2 separate regions of the Homo sapiens genome follow, and region 2 is linked to region 1. The links come from fine-mapping of genetic effects on gene expression. A gene starts in region 1. The other region holds a variant in brackets. All regions are shown on one strand. Distances are between the middles of the regions.

Region 1 (11,593 bases):
ACTGACCAAGAAAAAAAGAAAAAAGACTTGAAATTACTAGAGTCAGAAATGGAGACGATAATATTACCATTAACCTTTCAGGAATAAAATCCTACCTCCTCCAATGACCAGTTTTATAACCTCAGGTGTTACTTAGCCCCTCTGTGCCTCCCTTATCTCTATTCTTTAATCCCAACACTTTGGGAGGCCGAGGCAGGTGGATCACTTGAGCTCAGGAGTTCAAGACCAGCTTGGGCAACACAGCGAAACCATGTCTCTACTAAAAATGCAAAAATTAGCTAGGTGTGGTGGCGGGCGCCTGTAATCTCAGCTACTTGGGAGGCTGAGACATGAGAATCACGGGAACCTGAGAGGCGGATGTTGCAGTGAGCAGAGATTGCACCACAGCGAGACTCTGTCTCAGAAAAAGAAAAAAGAAAAAAAAGCAGTGGACTCCTAGATCCTATGAAGGCTGCAACCTAGACCCGACAAGAGATCAGAAATTTATTATCCAAAGAATACAGAAGGTCCTGGACAGATGAACACCAGGCACAGGAGAGGAGAAGACAGCAACAACAGAAGGGTTACACAGAAATTCATGTACTCAGTGTTGAGGATATCCAGACCCTTAGTCTTCCTCCACTCAGCTTGGGAACACTGTCAGCAAGGCACAGAGCCCACTCAGGCCTTCATGCCGCACTAGCTCCCAGGGCCCCAGACCTTCTAGTACAATGGAAAAATGAGACTGTCAAGGCATAGCTCTCATCAAAGAAATTCCAGGCCAGGCACAGTGGCTCACACCTGTAATCCCAACATTTTGGGAGGCCAAGGCAGGCGGATCACCTGAGGTCAGGAATTTGAAACCAGGCTGGGCAACATGGTGGAACGCCATCTCTACTAAAAATACAGAAATTGGCCGGGTGCAGTGGCTCACGCCTGTAATCCCAACACTTCGGGAGGCCGAGGTGGGCAGATCACTTGAGGTCAGGAGTTCGAGACCAGCCTGGCTAACATGGTGAAACCCCATCTCTACTAAAAATACGAAAAATTAGCTGGGCGTGGTAGCCTGCGCCTATAATCCCAGCTACTCGGGAGGCTGAGGCAGGAGAATCGCCTAAACCGGGAGGCAGAGGTTGTGGTGAGTCAAGATCATGCCTCTATACTCCAGCCTGGGCGACAGAGCAAGACTCCGTCTCAAAAAAAAAAAAAAAAAGAAAAAAAAAAGCCTACTGAAGCCTGATAGCTTCCAACTTTTCTTCAGCAGCTTCCTCAGCTCTCTCAGCCTTCAGAGAATTGAAGACAGTTAGGGCTTATGCTCTGGATTAGGCTTTGGTTTAAGGGAACGTTGTCGCTGGTCTGATCATCTATCTAGACCACTCAAATTTTCTCCATATCAGCAATAAGGCTGTTCCCTTTCTTATTACTGTGTTCACTGAAATAGCACCTTTTTCTTTATTTATTTTTGTATTTTTTTTTTCTTTTTAGTACAGATGGGCTTTCACCATGTTGGCCAGGGTGGTCTCGAACTCCTGACCTCAAGTGATCCCACCTGCCTTGGCCTCCCAAAGTGCTCAGGTTACAGGCATGAGCCACTGCGCCTGGCCAATTTTTGAGACAGGGTCTCACTCTTTCACGCAGGCTGGAGTACAGTGGCACAATTATACCTCACCACAGCCTCAACCTCCTGGGCTCAAGCCTTCCTCCACCTCAGCCTCCCAAGTAGCTGGGACTACAGGCATTCGCCACCATGCCCAGCTGATTATTTTTTGTTGAGAGGGGGTCTTGCTATGTTGCTCAGGCTGGCCTCAAACTCCTGGGTTCAAGAGACCTTCCCCTGCCTCGGCCTCCCGAAGTGTTGGGATTACAGGCATGAGCCACCAGACCTAGCCAGATAGTTTTTGTTTGTTTGTTTTGAGACAGAGTCTTGCTCTGTCGCCCAGGCTGGAGTGCAGTGGCGTGATCTCAGTTCACTGCAACCTCTGCCTCCCAGATTCAAGCAATTCTCCCGCCTCAGCCTCCCCAGTAGCTGGGATTACAGGTGTGAGCCACCGCGCCCAGCCAATTGTTCTTGAGTGAAATTAAAAGTGCTACTCCAGAGGCGGGGCATGGTGGCTCACAACTTTAATCCCAACACTTGGGACGGCTGAGGCAGGAGGATCACTTGAGCCCAGGAGTTGGAGGCCAGCCTGGACAACATAGCGTGACCTCGTCTCTACTAAAAACTAAAAAAACAAAAAAAAGGCCTATCTTGGCTTTCAACATGCCTTTCTCACTGAGCTTAATTATTTCTAGCTCTTGATGTGAAGTGAGAGATTTGCAACTCTTCCTTACACTTGAACACTTAGAGGCCACTGTACGATTACTAATTGCAAACAGCTGGTTGGTGGAGCGGTCAGAACACATACAATATTGATGGAGTAAGTTTACCGTCTTACACAAGCATCATTCATGATGCCCCAAAACAATTACAATAGTAACATCAAAGATTATTGATCGCAGATCACCATACTAGATATAATAATAACAAACTTTGAAATATTTCAAGAATTACCAAAATGTGGCACAGAGACACATACTGAGCATCCTTTTGGAAAAATAATGCTGGTAGACTTTGCTCGACACAGGGTTGCCAAAAGCCCTCAATTTGAAAAAAACGCAGTACCTGCAAAGCGCAAAAAAGCAAGGCACAATGAAACAAGGGGTGTGCCTGTTTTCTTTGACTCTCACCGAAGCCTTGTGTTTCCACAACATGAGAAAAGGGAGGTTCAGAAGGTGTGGATGATTTTCCTAAATCACCTGGCTAGTAACCAAGTCCCAGGGCCACAGCCTTCCCACCGCAAGGCACTGTCGCCCAAAGCCTTCAGGAGTAAGCTTGGCTGTAGGTTTTCCAGCCATAGGCACACAGCCAGACACAGGTGGGCACTCAGAAATTAGTTACGTGAGTAAATACCCAACAACTAGGAGAAAGCTAGGCAAATTGTGGTTGACCAACAAGACACTGCAAGACTTTTCAGGAGGAAGATGTGGAATTCCACTTATCAACATTAGATGAAAATGCAGAACCTCACATAACAGCCACAAATCTCCCTAGATCTCAGAGGCGGGTCTCCATCCGCTCGGCCTCAATTATCCAGAGCTGAGTCACCAACTATCCTCCCTCCAGTCTCTCCCCAGCTCTCCGCAGGAACCAGCTGGAGCTCTCTACTGCCCACACTGCCAAATCCAAATTCTTCATCCTGGCCTTCACAGCCCTTCCATCTCAACCAATCCAGTTGTTTCCTGAACACTTTCACCCTCCCTGGCCTTTGTTGGACTCTTCCCTCTACCCCACAGAAGCCCATCTTCTCCTTTATCCTGAGATGCAACTTGGCTCATATGGATTCTCAGTGAATGCTGGTGCCTTTCCCCACTTCCATCAAAAAGGGAGCGGTGGCCAGGTGTGGTGGCTCACACCTGTAATCTCAGTACTTTGGGAGGCCAAGGCAGGTAGATCACCTGAGGTCAGGAGTTCAAAACCAGCCTGGCCAACATGGCGAAACCCCGTCTCTACTGAAAATACAAAATTAGCCGGGCGTGGTGGTGCATGCCTGTAATCCCAGATACTCAGGAGGCTGAGGCAGGAGAATCACTTGAACCTGGCAGGCGGAGGTTGTAGTGAGCCGAGATCTCGCCACTGCACTCTAGCCTGGGCAACAAGAGCGAAACTCTGTCTCAAAAAAAAAAAGGAAGCGGCTCACTTTTTTTTTTTTTTAACAAAAGTGGATTTATTCATTTAAACCTATGTGATCACCAAGTTCACTAGAAACTGGCAGGATGAACCTGGAGCCTCACATCCAAGAGCCTCCGGTTTGGGTTTTTCTGGTACGGAGGCAGGGAACTGACTTAGATGACCTGGGCAGCCAGGCTGGTCTGGGCTTGGATGCCTTTCCACCTCTCCTTCCTCTCCTAGTCTATCCCCAGCTCCCTTCCAGGGGTCAGGACCCCAAACTCCTATTAGGCAAGTCTTTTCTTCCCTTAGCAACCCAGTTTCTTCAAACATGGGGAAAAAAGGTAGGAGGAGCTTCTTATCACAATATTTCTTTTTAATTTAGAAAGAGGAGGAGAAAGCTAGGCTCACACCTGTAATCTTAACACTTTGGGAGGTTGAGGCGGTGGATCACTTGAGGTCAGGAGTTCAAGATCAGCCTGGCCAACATGGCAAAACTCAAGTCTCTACTAAAAACACAAAAATTAGCTGGGCACGGTGGTGGGCGTGGGCGCCTTTAGTCCCAGCTACTCAGGAGGCTGAGGCAGGAGAATCGCTTGCAGCTGGGAGGTGGAGGTTGCAGTGAGCTGAGATCGCATCACTGCACTCCAGCCTGGGCGACAGAACGAGACTCTGTCTCAAAAAAAAAAAAAAAAAGAAAAAAGAAAGTAGGGGAGAGAAAAATGACAATAACTTATCACTTGGAAAAAGTTTTCCCACTAAAGTTCTCACCAACTATGTCCAAAGTCCCTCCTTGTTGGGACACTGTAAGCTGTCAATAAATATACCTTGGTCATGCCCCTACATTAGCGCGCACCAACTTACCCCATTTTAAGAGCCTGCGGTAGAGAGGTCTCAGAGTTGCTATAATGGGCCAGCTCCTGGTGAGGGGTATTTAGTTGTTTGCAATTTTCCCGAATGAACAGTTCTGCAAAGAACAATCTTCTATAAGCATTTATCTTTGTTGTACAGCTACTTCAAAAGACAGATTCCTAGAAGTGGAATTACTGTCTTAGAGAATCTACACATTTTAAATTCTGATACTTACTAGTTCAGAAACTTGACACGGTAATTCTCAAACTCTAATTGCACTTAGGCTTTATCTGTGAAGCTTGCTTACGTGCAAAATCTGACCGGCTACCAGCCTCCCTCCACCACTACCCCGTCCTCCAGGAGAGAGGAGGGGCTCCAGGTCTTTGTTATGCAGCTCTCAGGTGGAGGAGGAGGCAGCACTCCCCCGCTTCCATTTTCCCAACCACATCTAGCACCAGACTTGGGAAACACTCGTCTAAGGGGCTGCTGCAGGCACAATTTACGGTGCGGTCTCTTCCTCTAGCCCAGGCCCCCAGTGGCTTCCCCAGAAAGGGCAGAATGTGGCTCTTACGCATACAGGAGAAAAACGCCTAGTGCGGAGTTCAAGCTCAGCAGCCACTACCAGAGCCCCCTCTCCAGGCTCACCTGGTCGCACCCATTTCCCCCTGGGGCTCCCCTCTTCTGAAGGTCCCTGTCCCATACATTTCCTAGAGGCCAAGGCCCATTGGTTTTACATTTCTTACCTAAGGCAACCCAGACGTGGCTTTTTCTTTCACAGGGCCGTGGGGGGAGCACCACTTCCCCGGCCAAAAAAATTGTTTCTGACCCACACTCTGGGCCTTATTTTCCCTGTCTGTGAAATGGAGAGCAACAGGCAGTGCCACTGACATTTCACCCGCTGCCGTGAGGAGGTTTTTAACATTTGCAGGAAGTCTGGCTTCTATGGGGTGTCCAGGTGAAACCTTAACAATCTTTAATCAGCATTCTGATTGGCTTAAGGCTTGTTTGGAAAAAATTAAGAGTTTTGTTCCTAGAGTTCTCCATTGCTAAAGGGTAATTAAGTCCAAAAGCTGTTTTCAAAGCGATTTCCAAGCTCAAGGGCCCTAGATATCTGGACCTAGCCGTGTCCGGGTACAGGGCTGGGGGGCGTGGGGGGATGCCCTAAGAGGCTGGTTAACAGAAATATCACAGTATGTGGTACCCACAGCAGAGAGCAGGGAAGAATGTACTGACTGGGGTGGGGGAGGCCAAGGAAAACCTTCTGGAGTAGGGTGTAACTGGCAGAAGAGGAAAAAGAAACCAGACAGGAACTCCGGGAGCTCCTGGACTGATCGTTTAAGGCCGGGCACAAGGGGTAAGGGATCAGGCTTCACTATCGACCGACCTGGGCTGAATGATACCGGTTGACTGTGTGACAAAAGCAAATCAAGAACCTCTCTGCGGCTCATGAGTAAGCCAGAGACTTACATAGGACAACACATACCCTATCACCCGAGGATGAGACGGGATGACACACACGAAGTGCCCCGCACAGCGTCGTTGTAAAGCGTTGGCTGTTTTCACCTCTGGCCGCCCCCTGTGAGCCCGATCATGTGCTTTTTGGGCTTAGGTCGGAGGCGGCCTCCCAGATTCTACAGGCCATTGAGGTCGTAACAAGCGTCTCCATCAGAGCCTAGTCCTTAACTAGCTGCGGGTAAGTGCCCGGACTAAGTGGCCTCAGTTTCCCCTCGAAGCAACGGGACCAATCGCACCGCCGGCAGGACATCTTGTGCGGGGCGCGAAGTGACAAAAGTCAGGATTTGCAGAAGTTCCCACTCGGTAACGACCCCCACCCCGGCAAGGAGCACAGTAGGCGCTCCGGAAACGCCCTCCACGAGGAGGGCCGGGCCACTTCCTGCCCCCGAGCGGGCTCTCCCCGGCGGAGGCTCCCACCGCCGCTATGGGTAGGCCATGCAGCATTCCTGAGGGCGGGGTGGGCGCAGGAAGAAGGTGCCCGCGGCCCCGCCCCCTCCGGGCGCGCTGGGCGGGGCGAAGCCCCTCGGCGCCGACGGCCCGCCCCGCGGGGGGTGGGCGCAGCTCGTCGCGCTCCGCACAAAGTTTGTTTTCTCCCTCCGGGCGGGTGGGGGAGGGCGCAGAGGGCGCGGGGGGAGGAGAGGGGATCTGACGTCAGGCCGCGAGGTGCTTTCCAGCCGCGAGCTGTCAGGCCGAGTGTCAGGCCGGGCAGGTACGCGGCGCGCGCCCCCGGCGCCCCCCGCTCCCCGCCGGGACGCCCCGCGCCGAGCCGGAGGCCGCGTGGACCCGAAAGCCGCTGGGAAAAGTCAGTGCAGGGAGCAGCAGAGGGCCAGATGGGGGTGGGGGCGCGCGGACAACTTGGAAAGTTTCTTTTTCTCGGCCGGACGGGGAGGGGGCGTCGTCCTGGCGCGTGCGGTAGGGGGTGTGTGAGCTCGGGGGTGTTTGTGAGTCCCGACGGCCCCCGGGGGGTGTTTGTGAGTCCCGACGGCGCTGCGCTCCGGGGGCCGGTGGGGGACTGTTCCAGCCCCCGGGAGGAAGCCCGCTTGGGGCCCTGGTGGGGGGCCCAGCTTCATAGGATCCCACCCCAGGAGAGGGCCGATCCTGCACCGGACCTGAGTGAGCGCGCGGGGGGACGGATTTGTTTGGTTTCAAAAGTGCACGTTGCTAACCGCCAGCAGGGCCCCCCCGCCGCCGAGCCGGACAGGGGGCGGCCGAGAGTGACAGCTGGGGGTGGGGGCCGCGGGAAGGGCCCGGAGCGGGGGGGCCCTGGGGAGCCCGCGCGAGTTCCCCTTTCCTTTGGAACAAAGGAAAGTCTGTCTCCGAGGCATCTGTCACTCCCAGGCTGGCCAAGGAAGCGGGGCGCGTGGGGCCGGCGCCCCGGAGAAAGTTTGTTCGCGCCGGGACCCTCGGGCAGGCCGAAGGTGATCCAAGCCTCCCGCGGGAGAAGCGCGTAGTCTCCGGGGCAGGGGGCGGCCAACATGGAGTCTGGGCGCAGGGCTGGGGGGGGGGGGGCGGCGCGGAGGTGGGAGCCCAGCCCCCTCCCCTCCCTTCCCCTCCCCTCCCCCTCCGGGCCCAGTTCGGAGCACAAAGCCGAGCGCGCACGCTCCGCCGTCCCCGCGCCCCGAAGAGTCGGCCAGCCCCGAACTGCCGGAGTAGGGGTGGGAACCAAACTTTTTCCTGCCCCGGGACAGACACGTGAGTTTTCTTTCTTCCAGAGCCCCCGTCCCACCGGGATGGCGGGCCCGCGCGGGAGCTGGTGCGCGGAGTCGGCCCGGGGTGTGGGGACTGTGGGGTGCAAGCGCCCCGAGCGCCGGACGATTCCTCGCCGACCCAGGAGCCATGTGCTCCGACTCGGTCTGGGCCGCGGGGGAGGTTGCGCGCTTTGTCTGAACTGCTGGGAATGCGGGCGTGAGTGCGCGGCCCGGGGGAGTGTCGGGACCAGCTAGGGGAGTTGTCAGAAAGTTCGTGCGGGAGTGGCTGCAGGTGGCGTCGTGGGAGTCTGTAGGAGGGTGTACGGGATGTTGTGTCGAGGGGTTGCTGCCACAGGTCACTGAGGGTAGAACTGATTGTTAGTGTGATGACGCCTGGAGTTTTCCCTGTCGGAGAGATCGGGGGTGGCCGGGTCGGTTGGAGTTCGTGGGTGGGCGGGTACAGAAGTTGGGCTAGTTGTGTGGGTCACAGTTGTTCGTGCTAGGCCTGGGGTCTGTAAGCTGTGCGTGTGCGTGCTGTATGCGTCGGTGAAAACCCTAGGGTTTGTAAGGCTTGAGCGATGGGTCCGGGCCAGTTATCCTAGCGCTGTTGGTTAATTGCCTGGCGTGAGTGTGTCTGGGTGCGGTGTGGGGTGCATATGTGGGAAGCCTCCCAGACTACAGATGGCCCTGTGTGGCGGAACACCGAGGTGGAGAAGTTTGTGTAGACTGAGGGGTCATTCCCCAGGGCCCACCCGGGGAACCCTGCAGACAGACTTGGCTGGCAGCCAGGGTGGAATTTGTACAGATAACCTTGAGTACTTCTCACAGCCGGCCAGGGCTGCATCACTGAGCCCAGATCCCAGCTGCCCTGGCCACCTAGAAATGGCTGTCTGACCTCAGAAAGCAGCCTGCAGTGGTGCTCTCTGAGGAGTGGCACGTCTAACCAGTGCCTGTCTCACCTCCAGGTGGCCTGACTGAAAGGGTAGACCCTTCCCTCGAAAGCCTGGCCTAGCCAGCCCAGAGATCTGGGCTCGGGTCCAAGAAGAGGAAACAAAACCTGGGAGATGCCAGAGTCTGTTGGCCGGCCTGCTGGGGAGCTGTTAAAAGGCTGAGAAGGGAGGAGCCTTGAGATCCTGGCATCAGCCTGGCCTAGAACTTTTGCTTTTAAAATGAAAATCTGGCTGGGCGGGGTGGCTCACACCTGTAATCCCAGATCTTTGGGAGGCCGAGGCGGGCAGATCACCTGAGGTCAGGAGTTCAAGACTAGCCTGGCCAACATGGCAAAACCCTGTCTCTACTAAAAAAAAAAAAATAGCTAGATGTGGTGGCACACACCTGTAATCCCAGCTGTTCGGGAGGCTGAGGCAGGAGAATTGCTTGAACCTGGGAGATGGAGATTGCAGTGAGCCAAGATTGCGCCACTGCACTCCAGCCTAGGCTACAGAGCGAGACTCCATCTCAAAAAAAAAAAAAGAAAGAAAGAAAGAAAGAAAATCTTTGTTGCACGTGTGAAACAGAACTTTGTCCAGGGACTGAGCAGCTGAGTTGGGTTATCTAGGGAAAATCCTTCCTTCATTTGACAGGTGAAGAGGGGACTCAAGCCCAGAAAGGGGAGGATCCTTGTCCAAGTTACAGTGCCAAGTGGAGGGTGGGCCTTGCTCATTCACCTGGATTTTGAGTGGTTGAGTCTAGGACCAGGCTAAAGGGGCCTGACAAAGGAGAATGTCCAAGAAGCAACCAGTAGAGAGATGACTCACCTCTCTCACTGCAAGGTACACAGTAGGTGCTCCTTAAATATTACTTGGACTGCTGCAGGATCATGGTGATCTGTAGTTTCCAGAGTTCTCACTGGCCCTTGGGAGACCTAGGAGGCAAGACAGTATACAGCTCACAAGAGGGGGTGGGGAGAGGCCTGGTCCAAATCCGACTTCACTATCCTAACCTGGGGGTGGGATTTTTTTCCTTTACAGCTTTATTGAGATATAACTCACATACCATGCAATTCACCCATTAAAGTATACTCATCAGCAGGTTTGGTATGTTTGCAACCATCACTATAGTCAATTTTAGGACTTTTTTGCGGGGGGATAGGGGGACAGGGTCTTGCTCTGCCTCTCAGATGGGAGGGCAGTAGTGTGATCTCATCTCATTGCAACCTCTGCCTCCGGGCTCAAGCGATTCTTCCACCTCAGCCCCCAGAGTAGCTGGGACCACAGACATGCATTACCGTGCTCAACTAATTTTTGTATTTTTTGTAGAGATGGGGTTTCACCGTGTTGCCCAGGCTGGTCTTGAACTACTGAGCTCAAGCGATCCACCTGCCTTGGCCTCCCAAAGTGCCAGGAGTATAGGTGTGAGCCACAGCACGTGGCATTTTTTTTTTATTATTTTATTTTTGAAAACAGGTTTTTAATTATGTCGTCCAGGTTGACATGCACTGGTGCGATCATAGCTCACTACAGCCTTGAACTCCTGGGTTCAAGGGATCCTCTCACCTCAGCCTCTCAGAATAGCTGGGACTACTGGCACACCATCACACTGGGCTAATTTTTATTTTATTTTATTTTTTTATTTTTTTCTTTTGTTGAGACAGGGAATCACTCTGTCACCCAGGCTGGAGTGCAATGCCATGATCTCAGCTCACTGCAACCTCTGCCTTCTAGGTTCAAGCAGTTCTCCTGCCTCAGCCTCCCAAGTAGCTGGGATTACAGGTGTGTGCCACCACACCTAGCTAATTTTTTTTTTTTTTTGGTATTTTTAGTAGAGACGGGGTTTTGCCATGTTGGCCAGGCTGGTCTCGAACTCCTGACCTCAGGTGAGCCACCCACCTCGGCCTCCCAAAGTGCTGGGATTACGAGCGTGAGCCACCGTGTCCGGCCTTTGTTTGTTTTTGTTTTTTTTTTTTTGAGATGGAGTCTCGCTGTGTCACTAGGCTGGAGTGCGGTGGCACGATTTCGGCTCACTGCAACGTCCACCTCCCAGGTTCAAGCAATTCTGCCTCAGCCTCCCGAGTAGCTGGGACTACAGGCACGCGCCACCATGCCCAGCTAATTTTTGTATTTTTAGTAGAAACAGGGTTTCACCCTGTTGGCCAGGATGGTCTCAATCTCTTGACCTCGTGATCTGCCTGCCTCGGCCTCCCAAAGTGCTAGGATTACAGGCATGAGCCACTGTGCCCGGCCTTTGTTTTTTGAGACCTTTTTTATTTTGTTGTCACCCAGGCTGAAGTGCAGTGGCACAAACACAGTTCACTACAGCCTTGACCTCCTGGGCTCAAGCAATTCTGCCTCAGTCCCACAAGTAGGTGGGCTTACAAATGCACAGCATGACACCTGGCTTATTTTTGTATTTTGTGTGTGTGTGTGTGAGCCACTGCGCAGGCCTTGGGCAGCTTTCTTGATCTCTGTTACCTCATCTATAAAATGATGATAATAATAGCTTCTCCCTTATTGGGGAATTGTAATGATTAAATGAGATAACATGTAAAATGCTCAGTACAGGCCAGGCATGGTGGCTCACGCTTGCAATCCCAGCACTTTGGGAGGCTGAGGCTGCTAGATCTCTTGAGGCCAGCAGTTAAGACCAGCCTGGCCAATATGGTGAAACCCTGTGTCTACCAAAAAATACAGAAAGTCAGCCAGGCATGGTGGTGCATGCCTGTAATCCCAGCTACTCAGAGGCTGAGGTGGGAGAATCACTTGAACCCAGGAGACAGAAGTTGAAGTGAGCCAAGATGGCGCCACTGCACTCTAGCATGGGCTACAGAGTGAGAGCCTCTCTCAAAAAAAAAAAAAAAAGAAAAGAAAAAACCAAATGCTTAGTACCGAACATGGAAAACAGTAGACCTCAGTAG
Region 2 (11,593 bases), 120 kb before region 1:
CTCTGAAGACAACTCCAGCCCTATTTTCCCTCTTGGTGACCACTTAATGTATTTGAAAACAAGGGCCTTTGCCTTCTGGGACTCTGAAAATATAGACTGGTCTGCTACAGCCTCCGAAAATACAGACTGGCCCGCTACAGCCTTCCTTCTAGTCCTGCTGTTACCGGTAGCCCTGCCAGCCTCTCCACCTTCAAGGTCTCCAAACAAGAGCTGAGGCCCAGGTTCTGTGGCCTCCACATCCAGAAGAGCTCTCCCAGGCTGTCCCAGGCACTCTGCTACAGTTCCAAAGGGGCCGTGGGTGAAGGATAACATCCCCCACATCCTCACACCCATGCGAAGTTCTCTAAGCATGAAGTGGGCCTGGAGGGATAGACAGCACCCCTAGCAATTCTCTTCAAATAAACCATCCCTCACCAGTTTTTCCAACCCCAGTCACTCATGAATGGACTAAAGATAGGGGATGGGCTACATGTCCCAATACTGCCTGGGTCCCTGTATTGGTCAGCTCTTGCTACAATTATGCTGCATAACAAACAACCACAAAATCAGTGTAATACAACAATTCACATTTATTTCTTGCTCCCAAGTTTGTCAGTTGGGACAGTTCTGCTCCACATGTCTTTCATCCTCCTCCTGGGACCAAAGAGTCCTCCTGGGATCAGTGGTCTAGCCAGGGCATGTTCTCCTTATGGTGATGGCAGAAGACAGAAGAGCAAGCCTAACTAACCAAACAAGCACATTTCAAGGCCTCTGCTCATGTCATACCTGCTAACATCCTATTGGCAACACAAGTCATATGACTGAGCTCATAGACAAGGGATGGAGAAGTATCTTCTCACCTTTGTGTAGGAAACTATATTCATATGGCAAAGGGTGTGGCCACAGGGAGAGGTAAAGAATCAGGGTCTGGGTGGGCGCAGTGGCTCATGCCTGTAATCCCAGCACTTTGGGAGGCCGAGGCAGGTGGATCACTTGAGGCCAGGAGTTTGAGACCAGCCTGGCCAACATGGCGAAACCCTGTCTCTACTAAAAATACAAAAATTAGCCAGGCGTGGTGGTGCCCACCTGTAATTCCAGCTACTCAGGAGGCTGAGGCAGGAGAATCGCTTAAGCCCGGGAGGTGGAGGTTGCAGTGAGCCAACATCACACTATTGCACTCCAGCCTGGGCAACAAAAGTGAGACTCCGTCTCAAAAAAAAAAGAATCAGGGTCAACAATTCTATGTTCCATGATCCACTGTCTTGGCTGTATTTACTCATGCCCTTCCCAGGTAGAAAACTTTTATTCCCAAGACCCCCAAAAGTCTCATCCAATCATGAGATTGGATCAGACTCTTATGATCTATGTCAGGTCTGGATGTGGCTTCTGTCGAACAATTGACTTTTAATTTTTTAAAGAAACTACTTATCTACCCTACAGTCTAACCCTCCCCAACCACACAGCATACACTGGTGAAACAGGGACAGGAGAACTGCAGTTAATACTCCTGTTCAGAAAAGGGGAAAGTAGAGATGCAGAGACTTATTGATCCATGGCAATTCTGAAGTCCTTCTGAGCAACTGTTGGGCAAATGCGTTGAGATTTGTTGATTAGGTACAAGTTCTCCCTGGGGTTGATCTTCTAGTCTACTGTTCTCCACAGCTCTTGGTTCTGCTCTCTGAAAGCCCTTCCTTCTCCATCAGCATTTTTGGCCACTTTTAAAGAGAACTTGGAGAATATAGCCTTGGGGAACGGAACACCTTTCTTAGCTTGCTTCCTTCCTAAAGAAAGTTAGGGAGCTAGATGTCTTTTGCATCTTGAACGGTCTTACTCCCTTTAGCCTAAGCTGGTCAATTTTACCCATGCACCTACCTCAAACATTTGATGAGTTTTCTATGTATTTGATTCCCTGTAACTTCGAGTGCCAAAAGCCATACCCATAATTGTTTTTGAGTCATGCCTCTCTCTTGACTTGATGCCTACTTTGGGCTTCTGTGGGACCATGCCCTTAAGCTTTCTGTAGGCCCTTTTGACCAGATAGTAGCATCTGCTACCTGGTATCTTGATTGATTGATTGATTGAGACAGAGTCTCGCTCTCTGTCGCCCAGGCTGGAGTGCAGTGGCGCGATCTCAGCTCACTGCAACATCTACCTCCCAGGTTCAAGCGATTCTCATGCCTCAGCCTCCCAAGTAGCTGGGAATACAGGCGTGTGCCACCATGCCTGGCTAATTTTTGTATTTTTAGTAGAGACAAGGTTTCACCATGTTGGCCAGGCTAGTGTCGAACTCCTGACCTCAAGTGATCCACCCGCCTCGGCCTCACAAAGTGCTGGGATTACAGGTGTGAGCCACCACGCCTGGCTCTACTATTTTTAGAGTGTTAATAAGAGATATTATAACCACACTTTGATTTGATCCTGTCCACATACGGCATCTTAACTGGCCATGACCTTGGTTTCATCTTTGCCCTGAGGCTGTATTTTTTTTTTTTTTTTTGAGTTTCGCTCTTGTTGCCCAGGCTGGAGTGCAATGGCGTGATCTCAGTTCATCTCAACCTCCGCCTCCTGGATTCAAGTGATTCTCCTGCCTCAGCCTCCCAAGTAGCTGGGATTACAGGTATGCACCACCATGCCCAGCTAGTTTTGTATTTTTAGTAGAGACAGGGTTTCTCCCTGTAGGTCAGGTTGGTCTCAAACTCCTGACCTCAGGTGATCTGCCTGCCTTGGCCTCCCAAAGTGCTGGAATTACAGGCATGAGCCACCATGCCTAACGAGGCTGTATCTTAATTTGAGAATGGTTTACTCTCTGGAGGGGCTGGAGTTGACAAATTTATTTTCCAACTAAACAAGTTCTGGTCTCCTTCCCTTTCCTCTAAACGCTCCTTGAAGATCGGCTATTTTTTACTTTTTTAGACAGGATCTCCATGTGTCACCCAGGCATGGGTGCAGTGGCATGGTCATAGCTCACCATAGCCTCAACCTCCCAGGCTCAAGCGATCCTCCTGCCTCAGCCTCCCGAGTAGCTGAGACCAGAGTCATGCAGTACCATGCCTGGCTAATTTTTAAATTTCTTGTAGAGATGGGGTCTCCTTATGTTCTACCAGGCTGGTTTTGAACTCCTGGGCTCAAGTGATCCTCCCACCTTGGCCTTCTAAAGTACTGGGATTACAGGTGTGAGCCACGGCACTTGGCCTAGCTATTTCTTTTGAGTTCCTCCTTTTCTTGTAAATCTTTTTTTTTTTTTTTTTAGACAGAGTCTTGCTCTGTTGTCCAGGCTGAAGTGCAGGATCTCAACTCACTGCAATCTCCACTTCCTGAGTTCAAGCCATTCTCCTGCCTTAGCCTCCCAGGTAGATGGGATTACAGGCATATGCCACCACACCCAGCTAACTTTCAAATTTTTAGTAAAGGTGGGGTTTCATCATGTTCGCTACGCTGGTCTTGAACGTCTGACCTCAAGTGATCTGCCCGCCTCGGCCTCCCAAAGTGTTGGGATTACAGGCGTGAGCCACTGCGCTTGGCCTTTTTCTTGTGTAAGTCTTTTTTTTTTTTTTTTTTTTTTTTGAGACAGAGTCTCCCTCTATCACTCAGGCTGGAGTGCAATGGCATGATCTCGGCTCACTGCAACCTCTGCCTCCCAGGTTCAAGCCATTCTCCTGCCTCAGCCTCCCAAGTATCTGGGACTGCAGGCATGCGCCACCATGCCTGGCTAATTTTTGTATTTTTAGTAGAGACGGGGTTTCACCATGTTGGCCAGGCTGGTCTCAAACTCCTGACCTCAAGTGATATGCCTGCCCTGGCCTCCCAAAGTGCTGGGATTACAGGCGTGAGTCACCACGCCTGGCCCCTTTGTCTTGTAAGTCCTTAACAAATGCAGCCAAAAGGAGCAAGCTCAGGCCGGGTACAGTGCTGAGCACGGTGCTATAATCCCAGCACCGTAGGGAGGATCTCTTGAGGCCAGAAGTTCAAGACCAGCCTCAGCAACATAGTGAGACTCCATCTCTACAAAAAATTTTTTTTTAGTTAGCCACTGCACTTCAGCCTGTGTGACAGAGCAAAACCCTGTCTAAAAAGAAACAGAGGCTGGGTGCAGTGGCTCATACCTATAATCCCAATGCTTTGGGAGACCAAGGTGGGAGGATCACTTGAGCCCAGGAGTTCAAGATCAGCCTGGGCAACATAGTGAGAACCTGTCTCTACAAAATAAAAAAAATTAGCTGTGCATGGTGGTCACAGCTACTTGGGAGGCTGAGGTGGGATTTGCTTAAGCCTGGGAGGTCGTGCTGCAGTGAGCCATGATCATGCCACTGTACTCCAGCCTGGGTAACAGAATGAGACTCTGTCTTTAAAAAAAAGAAAAAAGAGGCTGGGCACGGTGGGTCACACCTGTAATCCCAACACTTTGGGAAGCTGAGGTGGGTGGATCACCTGAGGTCAGGAGTTCGAGACCAGCCTGGCCAACATGGTGAAACCCTGTCTCTGCTAAAAATACAAAAATTAGCTGGGCATGGTAGCGGGCACCTATAATCCCAGCTACTCTGGAGGCTGAGGCAGAAGAATCGCTTGAACCCAGGAGGCGGAGGTTGCAGTGAGCCGGGATCGTGCCATTGCACTCCAGACTGGGCGAAAAGAGTGAGACTCTGTCTCCAAAAAAAAAAAAAAAAAAAAAAGAAAGAAAGAAAGAAAAGAAAAAGAAAAAAGAGTCCGGGCACAGTGGCTCACGCCTGTAATCCCAGCATTTTGGGAGGCCGAGGTGGGTGGATCACCTGAGGTCAGGAGTTTGAGACCAGAATGGCCAACATGGCAAAACCCCGTCTCTACTAAAAATACAAAAATTAGCTGGGCGCCTGTAATCCTAGCTACTCGGGAGGCTGAGGCAGGAGAGTCACTTGAACCTGGGAGGCAGAGGTTGCAGTGAGCCAAGATCGCACTATTACACTCCAGCCTGGGCGACAGAGCGAGACTCTGTCTCAAAAAAAAAAAAAAGATAGAAAGAAAGGGCACTCCTTAAGACACTTAACAGCCATCTGTTGAAAAATTGTCATGTCACACTTTTTGTTAGAATAAGGTCCTTTACTTCCATTTGCCAGAAATTTGTCATAATAATTATATAATTAAATTATGTCTATGTGGTGAATGGCTCCCCCCGATATGTAGCATCCTTGATCAGTATAAAACTTGTACAACCATATATGGCGAGCCTGCCCAAAATCACTCCCTCCACAGACAAACACCAGCACACACAGGCACATCCTCACCACTGTACATCCAGCCACTGTCTCCCTACTGGGTCACCCCTGCTCAGAAGGCTGCCCCCTTACTCCTCAGCATCTGTCTCCAAGGAGTGAGCAATCGGGTCCTTTCTCCACCCCCAGGGCTGTTCTGAGCCCCCACGTTGCTGAAGGGCATGAAAGCTCTGTCCTTCTCACAGAGGCATCTGTGCACTCAGGTCCTGTGCAGGCCGGTGGGTTGATGTAGGGGAGCGGCAGTTATTGAGGCAGTGAGAGCCCCTCTCAAGCAGGGCGTGGGCAGGGTGAGGAGCTGCCTGCCTGCCCGCCCACCCACGTGGACCTGGCCAATTCTCCACTGCCAGTGCCACTACTGCTGTCCCTGTTCTCCCTCCCCCTGTCTGACCCAGATTCCACATTCCAGAAATAGCTCTGGCAGGTGACTGGCAGGCGGGGTCAGCTCTAGCTGGGATGGTGGGAGAAGCAGCCGCTATGGATGCGTGCCCCTCCCCAGCCAAAGGACCTATCTAGGAGGGGGCTTGGGGGTGCCATCACTCCCCAGTCTGCCCCCTCCTGCCTCTCTTCTCTCTATGCCTCTGAGAAAAAGAAGAAAGGAGAACAGCCTCCCTCCTCCTCCCTCCCTCCTCTTACTCTGCCATCTCCCTCTCTTTCTTCCAGCTTCCCCTCCCTTCCTCTCCCTCTTTCTCCCCCCACCATCTTTGCCTTCTGTCTGTCTCCCTCAGTTCTCTGCTTCTCCCTCCCACCCTCTCTGCCTTCCTTCCCTCTCAGTTTCTGGCCCTCCTCCCCGTCCTCCCTTTCTGTGTCTCTCCCACTCCCTCTGAATCACAGGGAGGCTGTGATGACAGCCAGTGGCCTGGGCAGGCAAGGTGGTGGGCTGCAGGGTGTACCCCCACTCCTGCCAGCTGCATTCTCTGCACCTGAGTGTGTGCAAGCACACAGGCACACACACTTGGGCTCACTCCCTGACAGTGCTTGTGGCTCTAGGCTGACCTGGGATGGGCTCCAGGCCTGGGAACCACCCTTGCTCCTTGCTCAGGGACCCTGAGTTCTGTGTCACTCTGAGTGGGCACCTGCCCTTCCCTGGGCCTCAAAGTCTCTATCTGTGTTGTGAGGCCTTGGTTTGGGGACCCACAGGTACCTCCCATCTGTGACAATCCAGTCATCAGCTGCTATGCCTGCCCCTCTTTGTCCCATCTTCCATCCCCCAGCTTCTTCTCTGACTGCCCTCCTACCCCTAACCTCCCCCCGGCACCACACACTCTGTATACAGGAAGGGAGGTTGATAAAATTGCAGTACACAGTCAACCCTCCAGTCAACCCTGTCCCCCAACCCTACCCTGGGCCCACCTGTCCCCTCACTCCACCGCAGGCTCTTGTCAGCCCAACGCCTCTAGTCTCCACAGTGTCAGGGCTAAGAGGAAACTCAAAGACCATCATGTCCGGAGATTGCAAATGGACTTCAACCATGTGTCATCTCTGATCCCTGGAGCTCAGTTCTGAGATTTGGTTAAGCAAAGAAAGGTGCCACCATCGATTCGCGATGTCTACCGTAGCCAGAAGAGTTACATACATCTGCAATTCCTGATCTAACCCACTTATCCCAACATGCACGTGCGCACACACAGACATGCACACACATTTACAGATATTTCACAAAGAAACATCAGCCTAGGGAAGATGATTATCTATCAAGGTCAAAGTCAGCCAGCTAGTAGGTCAGGGAGCAGTTTCCTACCTGGGTGTGCCTGACTT[C/T]GAAGCCCTGGGTTCTCCATTGCCCCCTGTGCGTGGGAGCCACCCAGTCCTGGTAAAGCAGTACAAGCATGGGTAATGAAGGTATGTTACAGGAGTTGCAGGGGAAGTCCTCTAGCAACATGGGCAGGATGGATTAGAGGCTGAGAGGCCACTCACAGGTTGGTGCAGTGGTCTAGGTAAGTGACAGTGAGGTCAGGACAGGGGCCATAGGGTCAGAGAATAATGGGAGGACCCAGGAGGCCTTCCCAGAATGAATAATGAGGAACCACAATTCCCTACTGCTGAAACAGGCACCTCTCCACAGAGGACACTGGGCAGAAGGCAGGCTTCCTGTCTGGGGTCCACCAACCCTTGGACTACGACATGCCTGATTAATTGAGTGCCTACTGTGTGCTGAGTATATGGATCCTCACTCTTCCATGTCCTGTTTTTAGCAGATCCACTCAGCCTTCTGGGGGAAATAGTGACCAGGACTGAAGGACTGGTGGGCAGGCCTCCAATCCCAGGATTGAGACTCTTGAGACAAGACAGGGGCATTCTGTATCCCCTCAGGGGGTAGAGAAGTCACCCCAAAGGAAGAGAGATGAAGGTGTTTAAATAGAACCTTGGAGGCCCTACGGCATGGTGGTTAAGCACCTGAGCCTTGCAATCAGGCATCTTTCACTGATAGATGTTTATTGATCAAGTGCTCTGGGCCAGGCTGTGTTGTAGGTACCATCAGTGAGCAAAATGGAAATCCTTGCCTTCATGGAGATTGTATTCTACTGGGAAGGGGAAGGGCAGACAAAACAATAAACATAAATAAGTGTGTGGTTTGTTGGTAGTTGGCACAGCATAAGGGGTCCTGGGAGTGGTGGCAGAGTGCAGGGAGGGGTGCCGAGGTATAAACAGGGTGGCTAGGGTACAGCTCATTGAGAGGGAGATTTTGAGTGAAGACTTTTTTTTTTTTAAGACGGAGTCTCACTCTGTTACCCAGGCTGGCGTGCAGTAGCGAGATCTTGGCTCACTGCAACCTCCGCTTCCCGGGTTCATGTCATTCTCCTGCCTCAGCCTCCTGAGTAGCTGGGACTACAGGCGCTCGCCACCACGCCCGGCTAATTTTTTTTTTTTTTTTTTTTTGAGACAAAGTCTCACTCTTGTCCCCCAGGCTGGAGTGCAATGGCTGCAATGTCCGCCTCCCTGGTTCTGGTTCAAGCGATTCTCCTGCTTCAGCCTCCTGAGTAGCTGGGATTATAGGCACCTGCCACCACACCTGGCTAATTTTTGTATTTTTAGTAGAGACGGGGTTTCACTATGTTGGCCAGGCTGGTCTTGAACTCCTGACCTCAGGTAATCCGCCTGCCTTGGCCTCCCAAAATGCTGGGATTACAGGCATGAGCCACCACGCCCGGCCAATTTTCTGTATTTTTAGTAGAGATGGGGTTTCACCGTGGTAGCCAGGATGGTCCTGATCTCCTGACCTCATGATCCGCACACCTTGGCCTCCCAAAGTGCTGAGATTACAGGCACACCCAGCTAATTTTTGTATTTTTAGTAAAGGGGATTTCACCATGTTGGCCAGGCTGGTCTCGAACTCCTGACCTCAAGCTATCCACCCCACCTCCCAAAGTGCTGGGATTACAGGCATGAGCCACCACACCCGGATTGAGTGAAGACTTGAAGGAAGTGTGGGAATAAGCAGTGCTGGGAAGCGCTCCAGGCGGGGGGTGAGTGGTACAAAGGCCCTGAGGCAGGAGGTGCCTGACAGGCTGGTGGGGGGCAGAGCACTGAGGAGAGAGCCATGGTAAGAGGTGAGGTTCGAGGACAGGGAGGGGAGGGTTGGGTCTGGCCACCGACTGTGGAAACAACTTTGTCTTTTGGCTCTGAGTACAAGGGGGAACCACTGGGGCACTGGAGCACAAGAGTGACATGACCTGGTGTGTGTCTTAAAAGAAACACTCAGACCGGGTGCGGTGGCTCACGCCTGTAATCCCAGCACTTTGGTAGGCCGAGGCAGGCAGATCACCTGAGGTCGGGAGTTTGAGACCAGCCTGGCCAACGTGGTGAAACCCCATATCTTTTTTTTTTTTTTTTTTTTTTTTGAGATGAAGTCTTGCTTCTGTTGCCCAGGCTTGGAGTGCCATGGCGAGGGGTTTCACCATGTTGGTCAGGCTGGTCTTGAACTCCTGACCTCAGGTGATCCACCCGCCTCAGCCTCCCAAAGTGCTGGGATTACAGGCATGAACCACCGTGCCTGGCAAAACCCCTCTCTACTAAAAATACAAAGCCAGGTGTGATGGCACAGATCTGTAATCCCAGCTACTCGGGAGGCTGAGGCATGAGAATCGCTTGAGCCTGGGAGGCAGAGGTTGCAGTGAGCCGAGATTGCGCCACTGCACTCCAGCCTGGCAACAGAATGAGACTCCGTCTCAAAATAAAAAAAAGAAAAGAAAAAGAAAAAAAGACTACTCAGGGGGCTGCATGGAGCCACGTTTGAGGGGCGAGAAGTGGGTGATATGGGAATACCAGGGTGATGATGGTGGCTTAGGCAGGGTGGCAGTGAGGGAGGTGGTGACAACTCACTGGATCCTGGAAGGGCTCTGAAAGTGGAGTCAACAGGATTCTTTGGTGGATTGGATGTGGGTGAGAGTGAAGGAGAACAGCTAAGGGGTGATGAGAAGGAATGGTTACACAGCCAGGTCGCGTGGGGACAGCCCTCACTCCTCTAACTGCCAGTTCTGGCACCTGAGACAGGACAGTGACTATCTGGGAAGTTGGGAGAGGAGCATCTTCACCCCCCGGATGGGGAGCCTTGGGGTCCAGGCTGGGGATTAGGGAGGGGGAGCATGTGAGTCCTGTCTGTGCCCCATCTCAGGCTGTGGTCCAGCCAACTCTGCCTTGTAGGGATTCCAGCCAGACTGGGGAGCTCTTAGGGGAAGGACCCAGTACTGGAGTACAGTAGATGTTCCATAAATATCTTCTGGGACCCTAAAGCATCACCATCAGAAGGGACTGTTAAAATCTCCTAGCCCAAGGGTCTCAAATTTGGTAAAATACAAACACTGTTTGACACTGCCTGAGTTCTGTCCCAGGAATCTGCTTTTCTTTTTTGTTATTTTTTTATTTTGGAGACAGTGTCTCACTCTGTCACCCAAATTGGAGTGCCGTGGCAGGATCACAGCTCACTACAGCTTTGACCTCCTGGGCCCAAGCAATCCTCCCATCTCAGCTTCCTGAGTAGCTGAGGAGCCACAGGCACATGCCACCACACCCAGCTAATTTTTTAATTTTTGTGGAGGCAGGGTCTCCCTATGTTGCCCAGGCTGGTCTTTTTTTAATTAATTAATTAATTTTTTTTGAAACGGAGTTTCGCTCTTGTTGCCCAGGCTGGAGTGCAATGGCGCAATCTTGGCTCACCGCAACCTCCGCTTCCCAGGTTCAAGCGATTCACCTGCCTCAGCCTCTCAAGTAGCTGAGATTACAGACATGTGCCTCCATGCCCGGCTAATTTTGTATTTTTAGTAGAGACGGGATTTCTCCATATTGGTCAGGCTGGTCTTGAACTCCTGACCTCAGGTGATCCTCCCGCCTTGGCCTCCCAAAGTGCTGGGATTACAGGCGTGAGCCACCACACTCGGCCCAGAATCTGCTTTTCAGTTGGTGCCCCCAGTGATCTCTCTTCAGGGTGTCAATCACGGTCCACAGTTTGAAAAATCTTGCCTTGGTCCAGTTTCTCTCCAGGAAACAGATAGGGCTGGTGAGTCCCAGAGAGGGAAAGGGACTTGTTCAAGGTCACACAGGGAGTGTGTTATTAAATTTGGGAGGGTGGAAGTGGAATAATGATATTTCATCTTATGCTGTGTGTGCTGCCTTGGGTTGTCAGGGCCCATAACAAATGTACCTTGTTTTTTTCCTAAGTAAATCAACCTTGGCTCACGCCTGTAATCTCAACACTTTGGGAGGCCGAGGTGGGAGGATCGCTTGAGCCCAGGAGTTCAAGACCAGCCTGAGCAACAGAGACCTTGTCGCTACAAAAAATAAAAATAACCAACTTAAAGTGAATAGTACAGGCGTAGCATAAGTGACTGAGATAGGATGACCTTCAAAGTGCTTAGCACAGTGCCTGGATTCAAAACGGTTGGCTAACCCTCAATTCCGTTTATTATTTTTACACCTTAATGCAAAAACCATGACAGTGGTATTGGAAACACTATCATCTTCGCCAGTGCTCAAAATATTTTGATATGTCAAAAATTCTTTTCTCCATTTTTTGGAAAACAGATGCGAGAAAGGAAAGGACTTGCCTAGGTCACCCAGCAAGGCAGGTCATGAACAAGAGTTGGGTCTGCGTCTGGCAGACCTACCACAGGTGCGGCCTGGAGAGATGAGGCCCACAAGGCAGCGACAGGACCTGGATTCAGTGAGGAGAGGGGACTCGCGGGGTAGAAGCCAGGAACTGGGAAGGCGAGGAGGCGTGAAGGCACCACCTACTGCCAACCCGGCTCGAGCTGGTCACTTTGCCCTCCATGAGATCGTAGGTGTGCTTGTTGTTTTATTTTACGGGGGAGGAATGGAAGGCTCAGGGAAGTTGAATGCGGATGTTGTTCAAGATCACACAGGCCTCCAGAGGCGGA

Which allele goes with the higher level. Alleles are on the strand shown, and positions count from the first base shown. SD is a standard deviation of normalised expression in the study named.
For the expression in nucleus accumbens of the gene that starts at base 6,384 in region 1, T is the low allele of the variant in region 2 and C is the other (small effect, 0.34 SD a copy in GTEx).

Evidence for each region.
Region 2: its variant is fine-mapped to the expression of DLGAP4-AS1 in nucleus accumbens (GTEx, PIP 0.99). The same link has a PIP of 0.9 or more in skin.

Annotation. Positions count from the first base shown.
Region 1 is chr20:36,566,892-36,578,484 of GRCh38, forward strand. It overlaps DLGAP4-AS1 (DLGAP4 antisense RNA 1), which reads right to left and starts at 6,384. Exons shown (of 5, transcript NR_109939.1): 1 at 6,021-6,384; 2 at 4,550-4,652. TGIF2 (TGFB induced factor homeobox 2) reads left to right here and starts at 6,706. Exons shown (of 3, transcript NM_021809.7): 1 at 6,706-6,854. It overlaps TGIF2-RAB5IF (TGIF2-RAB5IF readthrough), which reads left to right and starts at 7,624. Exons shown (of 5, transcript NM_001199535.2): 1 at 7,624-7,744. RefSeq lists enhancers at 4,652-5,204, 5,823-5,882 and silencers at 6,383-6,702, 6,733-6,822, 6,893-7,062.
Region 2 is chr20:36,449,308-36,460,900 of GRCh38, forward strand. The region is part of intron 7 of DLGAP4 (DLG associated protein 4); the gene reads left to right. Among named protein-coding and RNA genes, the nearest start is that of MYL9, 86 kb to the right of the region's middle. RefSeq lists an enhancer at 5,029-5,829. The variant C/T (reference allele first, on the strand shown) is at 6,981.